3 linked regions of the Homo sapiens genome follow. The protein of the gene in region 3 purifies or fractionates together with the protein of the main gene of each other region. This does not show direct contact. Each region holds a gene or a part of one and is shown on either strand. Other genes may lie near its edges. The genes, in order: NPM1, CENPC and RBM34.

Region 1 (3,652 bases), on a different chromosome or scaffold from region 3:
AGTAACTTGGGAGTTTGCTTTTATGCACAGTACTAAGTCAGTTCAAAAAAGGAAATCAGGGCAGACAGAGTCTCGTTCACTCAGTGCTCAATGGTGCCCAGGCTGGAGTGCAGTGGCGTGATCTCGGCTCACTACAACCTACACCTCCCAGCCGCCTGCCTTGGCCTCCCAAAGTGCCGAGATTGCAGCCTCTGCCCGGCCGCCACCCCGTCTGGGAAGTGAGGAGTGTCTCTGCCTGGCCGCCCATCGTCTGGAATGTGAGGAGCCCCTCTGCCTGGCTGCCCAGTCTGGAAAGTGAGGAGCGTCTCCGCCCGGCCGCCATCCCATCTAGGAAGTGAGGAGCGCCTCTTCCCAGCCGCCATCACATCTAGGAAGTGAGGAGCGTCTCTGCCCGGCCGCCCATCGTCTGAGATGTGGGGAGCGCCTCTGCCCCGCCGCCCCATCTGGGATGTGAGGAGCGCCTCTGCCCGGCCGAGACCCCGTCTGGGAGGTGAGGAGCGTCTCTGCCTGGCCGCCCCGTCTGAGAAGTGAGGAGACCCTCTGCCTGGCAACCACCCCGTCTGAGAAGTGAGGAGCCCCTCCGCCCGGCAGCTGCCCCGTCTGAGAAGTGAGGAGCCTCTCCGCCCGGCAGCCACCCCATCTGGGAAGTGAGGAGCATCTCCGCCCAGCAGCCACCCCGTCCGGGAGGGAGGTGGGGGGGGGTCAACCCCCCGCCCGGCCAGCCGCCCTATCTGGGAGGGAGGTGGGGGGTCAGCCCCCCCGACCGGCCAGCCGTGCCATCCGGGAGGGAGGTGGGGGGGTCAGCCCCCCACCTGGCCAGCCGTGCCGTCCGGGAGGGAGGTGGGGGGGTCAGCCCCCCGCCCGGCCAGCCGCCCCGTCCGGGAGGTGAGGGTTGCCTCTGCCCGGCCGCCCCTACTGGGAAGTGAGGAGCCCCTCAGCCCGGCCAGCCACCCCGTCCGGGAGATGGGGGGGTCAGCCCCCCCACCCGGCCAGCCGCCCCGTCCGGGAGGGAGGTGGGGGGGTAAGCCCCCCGCCTGGCCGGCCGCCCCGTCCGGGAGGGAGGTGGGGGGGTCAGCCCTCCGCCCGGCCAGCCGCCCCGTCTGGGAGGTGAGGGGCGCCTCTGCCCGGCCGCCCCTACTGGGAAGTGAGGAGCCCCTCTGCCCGGCCAGCCGCCCCGTCCGGGAGGGAGGTGGGGGGGTCAGCCCCCCGCCCGGCCGGCCGCCCTGTCCGGGAGGGAGGTGGGGGGGTCAGCCCCCCGCCTGGCCAGCCGCCCCGTCCGGGAGGGAGGTGGGGGGGGTCAGCCCCCCTGCCCGGCCAGCCGCCCCGTCCGGGAGGTGAGGGGCGCCTCTGCCCAGCCGCCCCTACTGGGAAGTGAGGAGCCCCTCTGCCCGGCCACCACCCCGTCTGGGAGGTGTGCCCAACAGCTCATTGAGAACGGGCCAGGATGACGATGGCAGCTTTGTGGAATAGAAAGGCAGGAAAGGTGGGGAAAAGATTGAGAAATCGGATGGTTGCCGTGTCTGTGTAGAAAGAAGTAGACATGGGAGACTTTTCATTTTGTTCTGCACTAAGAAAAATTCCTCTGCCTTGGGATCCTGTTGATCTGTGACCTTACCCCCAACCCTGTGCTCTCTGAAACATGTGCTGTGTCCACTCAGGGTTAAATGGATTAAGGGCGGTGCAAGATGTGCTTTGTTAAACAGATGCTTGAAGGCAGCATGCTCGTTAAGAGTCATCACCAATCCCTAATCTCAAGTAATCAGGTACACAAACACTGCGGAAGGCCGCAGGGTCCTCTGCCTAGGAAAACCAGAGACCTTTGTTCACTTGTTTATCTGCTGACCTTCCCTCCACTATTGTCCCATGACCCTGCCAAATCCCCCTCTGTGAGAAACACCCAAGAATTATCAATAAAAAAATAAATTAAAAAAAAAATAAAAATAAAAAATAAATAAATAAATAAATAAAATGAAAAAAAAAAAAAAGAACTACCTGAGATTGGGTAATTTATGAAGAAAAGAGGTTTAATTGACTTACAGTGCTGTAGGCTGTATAGGAAGCATGGCTAGGAGGCCACAGGAAATTTACAATCATGGCAGAAGGCAAAGGGGAAGCAAGGCACATCTTACATGGCAGCAGAAGAGAGAGAGCACAAAGGGGGAGGTGCTACACACTTTCAAACAACCAGATCTCATGAGAATTCACTATCAACAGAACAGCAAGAGGGAAATCTACCCCATGATCCAATTACCTCCCACCAGGCCCCTCTTCCAACACGTGGGGATTACAATTTGAGATGAGATGTGGGTGGGGACACAAAGCCAGACCATATCAGGTATTAGGTTGATTCCATGTCTTTGCTATTGTGAATAGTGCTGCAGTGAATATTTGTGTGCATGTATCTTTATGGTAGAATGATTTATATTCCTTTGGGAATGTAATGGGATTGCTGGGTCAAATGGTAGTTCTGTTTTTAGCTCTTTGAGGAATCGCCACTCTGCTTTCCACAATGGTTGAACTAATTTACACTCCCACCAAGAGTGTGTAAGCATTCCCTTTTTTCTGCAACCTTGCCAGCAGCTGTTGTTTTTTGAGTTTTTAATAATAGCTATTCTGACTGGTGTGAGATGGTATCTCATTGTGGTTTCGATTTGCATTTCTCTAATCAGTGATATTGAGCTGTTTTTCATATGCTTTTTGGCCACTTGTATGTCTTTTGAAAAGTGTCTGTTTATGTCCTTTGCCCACTTTTTAGTGGGGTTGTTTGTATGGAGGTTCATCATTAGTTACATTTAGTCAATAGATTATATGTGTTGTAGAATATGAAATTTATTCGTTTAAATTGTAAATAAACTATTTCATCAGGTTAAAAAAAAAAAAAAAAGGAAATCAGAAAATCCCTAAGAATAAAGCAAGAAAGTCACTGTAGTCTGATGCCTGGCGCCCACCCCAGACCATTTTTATGACAATCTCCATAAGTAGAGCACAAGTACTGGGGTTCCTTTAAACTTTTTTTCCTTTAAATTCCATTTTCTGCAGGGAAGTGGGTAGGGTCAGGAATGAGATCAATACACCCTGTCTAGGCCCAAATGTTCTACTTCAAGCTAACATGCAGCCAAGGTTGAGAACTTCTACTCTATGCAGACATACCTTTCAACAAAGATTCCTTACAGGAAACAACTATTGACTTCACAATCACAAAAAATTCAGGCCAGGCGTGGTGGCTCACACACTTTGAGAGGCCCAGGAGGGCGGATCACCTGCAGTCAGGGGTTTGAGACCAGCCTGGCCAACATATAGAGTGAAACCCCATCTCTACTCAAAAATACAAAAATACGCTGGGCCTGGTGGCACGCGCATGTAGTCCCAGCTACTTGGGAAGCTGAGGCAGGAGAATCGCTTGAACCCGGGAAGTGAAGGTTGCAGTAAGCCGAGATCACGCAACTCTAACCCAGACTGAGTGACAAAGTGAGGGTCCATCTCTTTCAAAAAAGTCTATTGGCTCCCCCCGCCCCACCACCTTACATTTAGTATGTTTGTGTGTGTGTGTGTACCTACAACACACAACAAGCTGATTTTTTTTTTTGGAGGCGGAGTCTCGCTCTTTTGCCCAAGCTGGAGTGCAGTGGTGCAATCTCACTGCACTCCACCT
Region 2 (3,652 bases), on a different chromosome or scaffold from region 3:
GTTTTTATAAGGTTTAAATGCAATTAGCATAGTAGGTGGCATATGTTAGTATTGAAGTGTTAAATAATACTGTTACTGCTTTGGGGAACTCACTTTTCTGCCCCAGGTTGCCTGAAATGCTAAGTACTATGTGGCAGATGAATACATAAACAGATGGGTAAATAAATTCTTACAGAACTTGGATAAATGTGCTAGATCTCTGAAACTATCAAAAAACACTTATTTAAGAGTCCTGAAATAGATGTTGGATTTTTGATCAAGCTGGGAGTCGAAAAAGTGGAGGAATCTTTATATATCATATAGTCTAAACTCTCATCTGATGGAAGAAGAAACTGAAGTCTGAAGTTAAGAAGAACAACTTGACCTGCCCCCAGCCTGCCTGTCGTACGTGTGACACTGTTGCCCTTCCATATATATGAAGAAATGTATATGGAGTACTTGCCATGGGGCAGGAATGAGGTAAAGTAGGACCAGGACTAGGGTAAGACAATGAGACACTAGGGTGAAAAATTTAAGGCAGTCAGTCACAGGATTGTATCAGTTCGGGCTCTGTACTTGCACAGACCTGAAAATGAGTACCTTCTTGAATTTTCCAGCTGAGGCTACTCTTGCTTCACCATAGTCCTGCCCCTGTCATTAGGCATTGGGAATATACATAGATAAAATACCAATCAATTACTTGAGGTCAAGGAGTTGTTAGTCTGCTGGAGGAGAGAAGTAGAGATAAGTAAACAGTCGTATGTGTGATAGCAAGCTACCTAAGACTTGGAAATTAGGGAAAGCTTCCTGAAGGATGAACTAGGAGTTAGCTAAGTGATTGAGTGGAGTAAGGAGGAAGTTATGGAATGTTTTAAGTAGAAGTAGCTTGTGCAGAGATCTGGAGCAGAGAGCTTGATCTTTTCTTTCTTTAATTTAGTGTGCTTTAGAATTGTCTGGGGGGCCTATTAAGGCACAGGTTACTGGGCCCTGCTCTGCAAAGTCTTTGATTCACTGGGGTCTGAGGTGAGGCATGATAATTTACATTTCAAATTCCCAGATAATGCTGATCTTGCTGGTCTAGAGACTGCCTTTGGACAACCAGTGCTTTAGAGAAACTGTAGATTGTTCATTACTGATGGCTTTTTTTGGTTTGTTTGTTTGGAGGGGGGTTTTGGGAATTGTGGTTTATGAAATAAGCAAATCTAGATGTAGATATGAATTGATGTTGAAGTATTTGGACTTCATCCTGAAGCTATAGATAATAACTAAAATACTTTAATTAAGCAGAGTTGTAATGATCCAGTTTTTGTTTTCCAAAGGTGATTCTTGCAGCAGTGTAGGGAATGGATTGAAGAAAAACAAGGCTAGGGAGGGGGAGATTAGTAAAGAGACTGTTTTAATAATCCAGATATGAAATAATGAGGACTTCTACTAATGACAGGAGGGAGAGCTTGAAAGATTTGAAAGGCATTAATAAAGTAGAATTGATGGGATTTAGGGCGTGATTGTGGATAGGAGTAGTAGTCTTGCATGACTCAAATTTCTGATTTAGATATCTGGATAGAATAGGTAGTTGTATTTTTCATTAAGATAGGAAATAAAGCAAGAGAGGCAGATATAGGGGAGAGCAGTAGATGGATATTATAGGTGTCAGCATATAGATAGTAATTAAAGCTCTGGGTAGATAAGTCCGTCAATGAAAGTATATGGAGTGAAAAGCTGAAGCTGTCACCTTGGGGAATATCAGATATTAAGGATGGCCAGAAGGGCAGTGGGCAGAGCCAGAGAGTGTTTCTTGAAGCCTGTGACAGATTTGAAGGGCCTGTTTCATATATCTATAAACTGAAGAGCTACATTGTTTAAAGAATTTAATTTGGAAATAAATTTAGCCTGAGATGTGTGTGTGTGTGTGTGTGTGTGTGTGTGTGTGTGTGTGTGTGTGTGTATGTGTATATGTTTATATGCAAATATAAATGCTGTTGGTATTTCAGTGAGCCAAATCATCTGGACAAACTTACTAACTTTAGGTTATCATTGAATCCTTCAGGTCCTGTTTATAGCAATTCTTCAGTAAGAAATGAATTACCAATGCATCACAATAGTAGCCGAAAATCTACTAAGAAAACAAATCAGTCATCTAAGAATATTAGGAAAAAAACTATTCCACTTAAAAGGCAGAAGACAGCAACTAAAGGCAACCAAAGAGTACAGAAGTTTTTAAATGCTGAAGGTTCTGGAGGTATCGTTGGTCATGATGAAATTTCCAGATGTTCGCTGAGTGAGCCATTGGAAAGTGATGAGGCAGACTTGGCTAAGAAGAAAAATCTTGATTGTTCTAGGTAATGTCTGTTATGTGTACAATATAGTTACTTTTGTTGTTCAGCATTTAATAATTTGTGCTATTTAGTCATTTATGGACAGGCAGTAATTAGCATGAAGAGCTCTGCACTCTGACATACCTGGTATTAAATCCAGCCTCTACCATTAGCTGGATGACACACAGGCAAAGTAGTACTCTGCACTTGTTTCCTCATATTAAAATAGGGAATAGTACATAGCACCTGGAATTATGACTGTTAAATTTAATAAGATATTATTGTCATCCAAGAGTTAAACTTTTTTTTTTTTTTTTTTTTTTTAAGAGACAGAGTCTTCCTCTGTTTCCCAGGCTGGAGTGCAGTGGCGTGATCATAGCCCACTGTAACCTCAAACTTCTGGGTCAGATAATCCTTCTGCCTTAGCTTCCTGAGTAGCTAGGACTACAGGTGTGGACCACCACACCTGGCTAATTTTTTAATTTGTTGGAGAAATGAGGTCTTGCTTTGTTGCCTAGGCTTGTCTTGAACGCCTGGTGTGAAGTGATTCTCCTGCCTTGGGCTCCCAAAGTAGAGATTCAAAAAACAAACAGACAAAAAACACATAACATAAAATTTACTGTCTTAATCTTTTTTAAGTGTATAGTTCAAATTGTTTCCTTTTAAGTGAGATTAATGTGATTTCAATAGTTAGGAATATAGCTTAATACTTTTCTTCTTAGGATGATAATAGTTAACATTTTTTGAGTTCATACTATGTGCCAAATATTTGCTAGATACTTTTAATGAATTCTTATTAGTTCCAACAACCTATTGAGGTAATACATACTTTGTGTTGGAATCAGTAAGGTGCTGAGGATATACTGAAATAAATGACAGTGTGTCCTAAAATATATTAGCGTATATCATTATAGTGCATAAAGAAATCCCATACCCATTCTGTTTCACTTTTTCAGGCCATTCTCTGCTTTTCTCTCTCTTTTATTTTATTGTGTTGCTGGAATTTGCTAGTATTTTGTTGAGGGGTTCTGATCGGTAGCTTGCTTTGCTTCTGTTGTCTTTGTTTAGTTTTGGTATCAGGGTAATACTGGCTTTATACAATGAGTTGGGAAGTATTATCTCTCTATTTTTTGAAACGGTTTGTGAATAATTTGTCGTAATTCTCTTTGAATGTTTGGTAAAAGCAGTGAAGCCACCTGTGCCTGAGCTTTTCTATATGGGTAGTTTGTTTTTGATTACTGATTCATGGTATTTTGAGACTGTTTCCTCTTGAATCAATTTTGATAATTTGTGTCTTTCTAGGAGTTTGTCCATTTCATCTAGGTTATTTAATTTGTTGGCATACAGTTGTTCCTAGT
Region 3 (3,652 bases):
TAGAGTCATCATACAGGATATACTCTTGTCTAATTTGCTCAGCATAATGATTTTGAGGTTTGTTTTTTTGTGGGGGAGGGTTGGTGGAGGGGAACAGTGTCTTCTGCTGTTGCCCAGGCTGGAGTTCAGTGGCACGATAATGGCTCACGGCAGCCTTATCACCTGGGCTCAAGCAGTCCTTCTGCCTCAGCCTCCTAAATACCTGGGACTACAGGTGCTCGCCACCACACCCGGCTGATTTTTAAGTTTTTAGTAGAGCCAAGGTGTCACTAATGCCCAGACTGGTCCTGAACTCCTGAGCTCAAGTAGCCCTCCTGCCTTTGCCTCCCAAAGTGTTGCAATTACAGGCTTGAGCCACCGTGCCTGTCTGAGATTTGTTCTTATTATTGCAATGCATTGGTAATTAATTCGTTTTTATTGCTCAGTAGTATTCCCTTGTATGACAGTATTTGTTTATCCATTCACCTGTTTATTGTGTTGTGTTGTATTTATTGTGATGTATTGTACTGTATTGTACTGTATTGTATTGTGATGGAGTCTTGCTCTGTCGCTCAGGCTGGAGTGCAGTGGTACCATCTCGGCTAATTGCAACCTCTACCTCCCGGGTTCAAGTGATTTTCATGCCTCAGCCTCCCAAGCAGCTGGGATTACAGACACATACCACCATGCCCAGCTAATTTTTTCATACTTTTAGTAGAGATGGGGCTTTGCCATGTTGGCCAGGCTGGTCTAAAACTCCTGACCTCAGGTGATCCGCCCGCCTCAGACTGCCAAAGTGCTGGGATTATAGGCGTGAGCCATCGCACCCGGCCCCATTCACCAGTTTATGAACATTCAGGTTATTTCAGCCTTTGGCTATTATACATAAAACTGCTAAAAAAAATTTGGGTACGGATCATTTCTTTTGAGAAACTGCCTGGTCGGATTGCCAGATCTTACGGTATATTGTAACTTTCTAAGAAGCTGCAAAATTGTTTTCCAAAGTGTTTGTACCATTTTACATTCCTACCAGCTATCGATGAGAATGTCAGTTGCTTCACATCCTCACCAGCACTTGGCATTGTCATTTAATTTTAGACATTCTGAAGGTTTGTCAACCACAGTGACTAAAAATGTTAGGCATCTTATGTGCTTACTATTTGTATCTATTCTTTGGTGAAATGTTGGTACAAAAATTTTGCCCATTTTTTAGTGACTTTTAAATTATTTTTATATGGTTGTAAGGAGTTATTTATATATTCTAGATATAACACCTTTTCCTGCTATGTGTGTTTCAGATATTTTGCTCCAGTTTGTGGCTGGCTTTTTTAGAGGTGTCTTTTTTTTTTTTTTTTTTTTTGAGATGGATCCTTGCTCTGTCACCAGGCTGGAGTGCAGTGGTGCGATCCCAGCTCACTGCAACCTCCGCCTCCCGGGTTCAACTGATTCTCCTGCCTCAGCCTCTCAGGTAGCTGGGATTACAAGCGTGCGCCACCACACTCGGGTCATTTTTGTATTTTTAGTAGAGACGGGGTTTCACCATGTTGGCCAGGCTGGTTTCGAACTCCTGACCTCAGATGATCCACCCACCTCTGCCTCCCAAAGTGCTAGGGTTACAAGCATGAGCCACCACACACGCCCAGAGGTGTCTCTTAAAGATTGAAAGTTTTAAGTTTTATTGAAGATCTCATTTAGAGAGTGCTGTTGTTGGCCAGGCACAGTGGCTCACGCCTATAATCCATTACTTTGGGAGGTCAAGGTGGGCGGATCACCTGAGGTCAGGATTTTAAGACCAGCCTGGCCAACGTGGTGAAACCCCGTCTCTACTAAAAATACAAAAATTAGCCAGGAGTGGTGGCGTGCGCCTGTAATCCCAGCTATTCTGGAGGCTGAAGCAGGAGAATCACTTGAACATGGGAGTTAGAGGTTGCAGTGAGCCGAGATCATGCCATTGCACTCCAGCCTGGACTGCAAGAGAGAAACTCCGTCTCAAAATAAAAAAAGTGCTATTGCTTGTCAGTTGGCTTGGTAGTCTGGTGGGAGTGGGCGCAGCAGGGTCTCTGCTGTCTTGTCTTAGTGTTTCCGTGTCTCAGGAGTGCACCTGATCAGGGCTTTTTTCCCGGGGCAGCCAAGCTGTGCCAAATGCCTTGTACCTTTAGTGGGGATTATGCAGAGGATGTTTCCCACCTCTCCCCCGGTAGCTGGACTCCTCCCTTCCTCCGGCTGTAGGGGTCTTCTCTGTGCCCTGGAGTGACAGGGTTTGCTATCCCTCCCCTAGCAGCTTAGCCTTCTCCTCCATCAAGAGAATGTGTCCGGAATTGGTGGGTTCTTGGTCTCACTGACTTCAAGAATGAAGCCGCGGACCCTCGCGGTGAGTGTTACAGCTCTTAAGGTGGTGCGTCGGGAGTCTGTTCCTTCTGATGTTCGGATTTGTTCGGAGTTTCTTCCTTCTGGTGGGTTCGTGGTCTCACTGGCTCAGGAGTAAAGCTGCAGACCTTCGCAGTGAGTGTTACAGCTCTTAAGGCAGCGCGTCTGGAGTTGTTCGTTCCTCCCGGTGGCCTCGTGGTCTCGCTGGCTTCAGGAGTGAAGCTGCAGATCTTTGCGGTGAGTGTTACAGCTCATAAAAGCAGCGTGGACCCAAAGAGTGAGCAGTAGCAAGATTTATTGCAAAGAGTGAAAGGACAAAGCTTCCACAGTGTGGAAGGGGACCCGAGTGGCTTGCCACTGCTGGCTAGGGCAGCCTGCTTTTATTCTCTTATCTGGCCCCACCCACATCCTGCTGATTGGTAGAGCCGAGTGGTCTGTTTTGACAGGGTGCTGATTGGTGCATTTACAATCCCTGAGCTAGATACAAAGGTTCTCCATGTCCCCATCAGATTAGTTAGATACAGAGTATCGACACAAAGGTTCTCCAAGGCCCCACCAGAGCAGCTAGATACAGAGTATCGATTGGTGCACTCACAAACCCTGAGCTAAACACAGGGTGCTGATTGGTGTGTTTATAAACCTTGAGCTAGATACAGAGTGCCGATTGGTGTATTTACAACCCCTGAGCTAGACATAAAGGTTGTCCAAGGCCCCACCAGAGCAGCTAGATACAGAGTGTCGATTGGTGCACTCACAAACCTTGAGCTAAACACAGGGTGCCGATTGGTGTGTTTACAAACCTTGAGCTAGATACAGAGTGCCGATTGGTGTATTTACAATCCCTGAGCTAGACATAAAGGTTGTCCAAGGCCCCACCAGAGCAGCTAGATACTGAGTGTCGATTGGTGCACTCACAAACCTTGAGCTAAACACAGGGTGCCGATTGGTGTGTTTACAAACCTTGAGCTAGATACAGAGTGCTGATTGGTGTATTTACAATCCCTGAGCTAGACATAAAAGTTCTCCAAGGTCCCACCAGAGTAGCTAGATATAGAGTGTCGATTGGTGCATTCACAGACCCTGAGCTAGACACAGGGTGCTGATTGGTGTATTTACAATCCCTGAGCTAGACATAAAGGTTGTCCACATCCCCACCAGACTCGGGAGCCCAGCTGGCTTCACCCAGTGGATCCTGCACCGGGGCTGCAGGTGGAGCTGCCTGCCAATCCCATGCCGTGCGCCTGCACTCCCCAGCCCTTTGGTGGTCGATGGGACTGGGCGTCGTGGAGCAGGGGGTGGCGCTCCT

What was found.
Region 1: the proteins of RBM34 (region 3) and NPM1 purify together in Homo sapiens (affinity purification with mass spectrometry; 4 studies listed by BioGRID and IntAct, with this or other methods). This does not show direct contact.
Region 2: the proteins of RBM34 (region 3) and CENPC purify together in Homo sapiens (affinity purification with mass spectrometry; 2 studies listed by BioGRID and IntAct, with this or other methods). This does not show direct contact.

Annotation. Positions count from the first base shown.
Region 1 is NC_000005.10:171,401,286-171,404,937, reverse strand, and holds part of NPM1 (nucleophosmin), read right to left. Parts: intron 1-3,652. UniProt on the Homo sapiens protein: Involved in diverse cellular processes such as ribosome biogenesis, centrosome duplication, protein chaperoning, histone assembly, cell proliferation, and regulation of tumor suppressors p53/TP53 and ARF.
Region 2 is NC_000004.12:67,507,480-67,511,131, reverse strand, and holds part of CENPC (centromere protein C), read left to right. Parts: intron 1-2,026; coding exon 2,027-2,318; intron 2,319-3,652. UniProt on the Homo sapiens protein: Component of the CENPA-NAC (nucleosome-associated) complex, a complex that plays a central role in assembly of kinetochore proteins, mitotic progression and chromosome segregation.
Region 3 is NC_000001.11:235,140,614-235,144,265, reverse strand, and holds part of RBM34 (RNA-binding protein 34), read left to right. Parts: intron 1-3,652.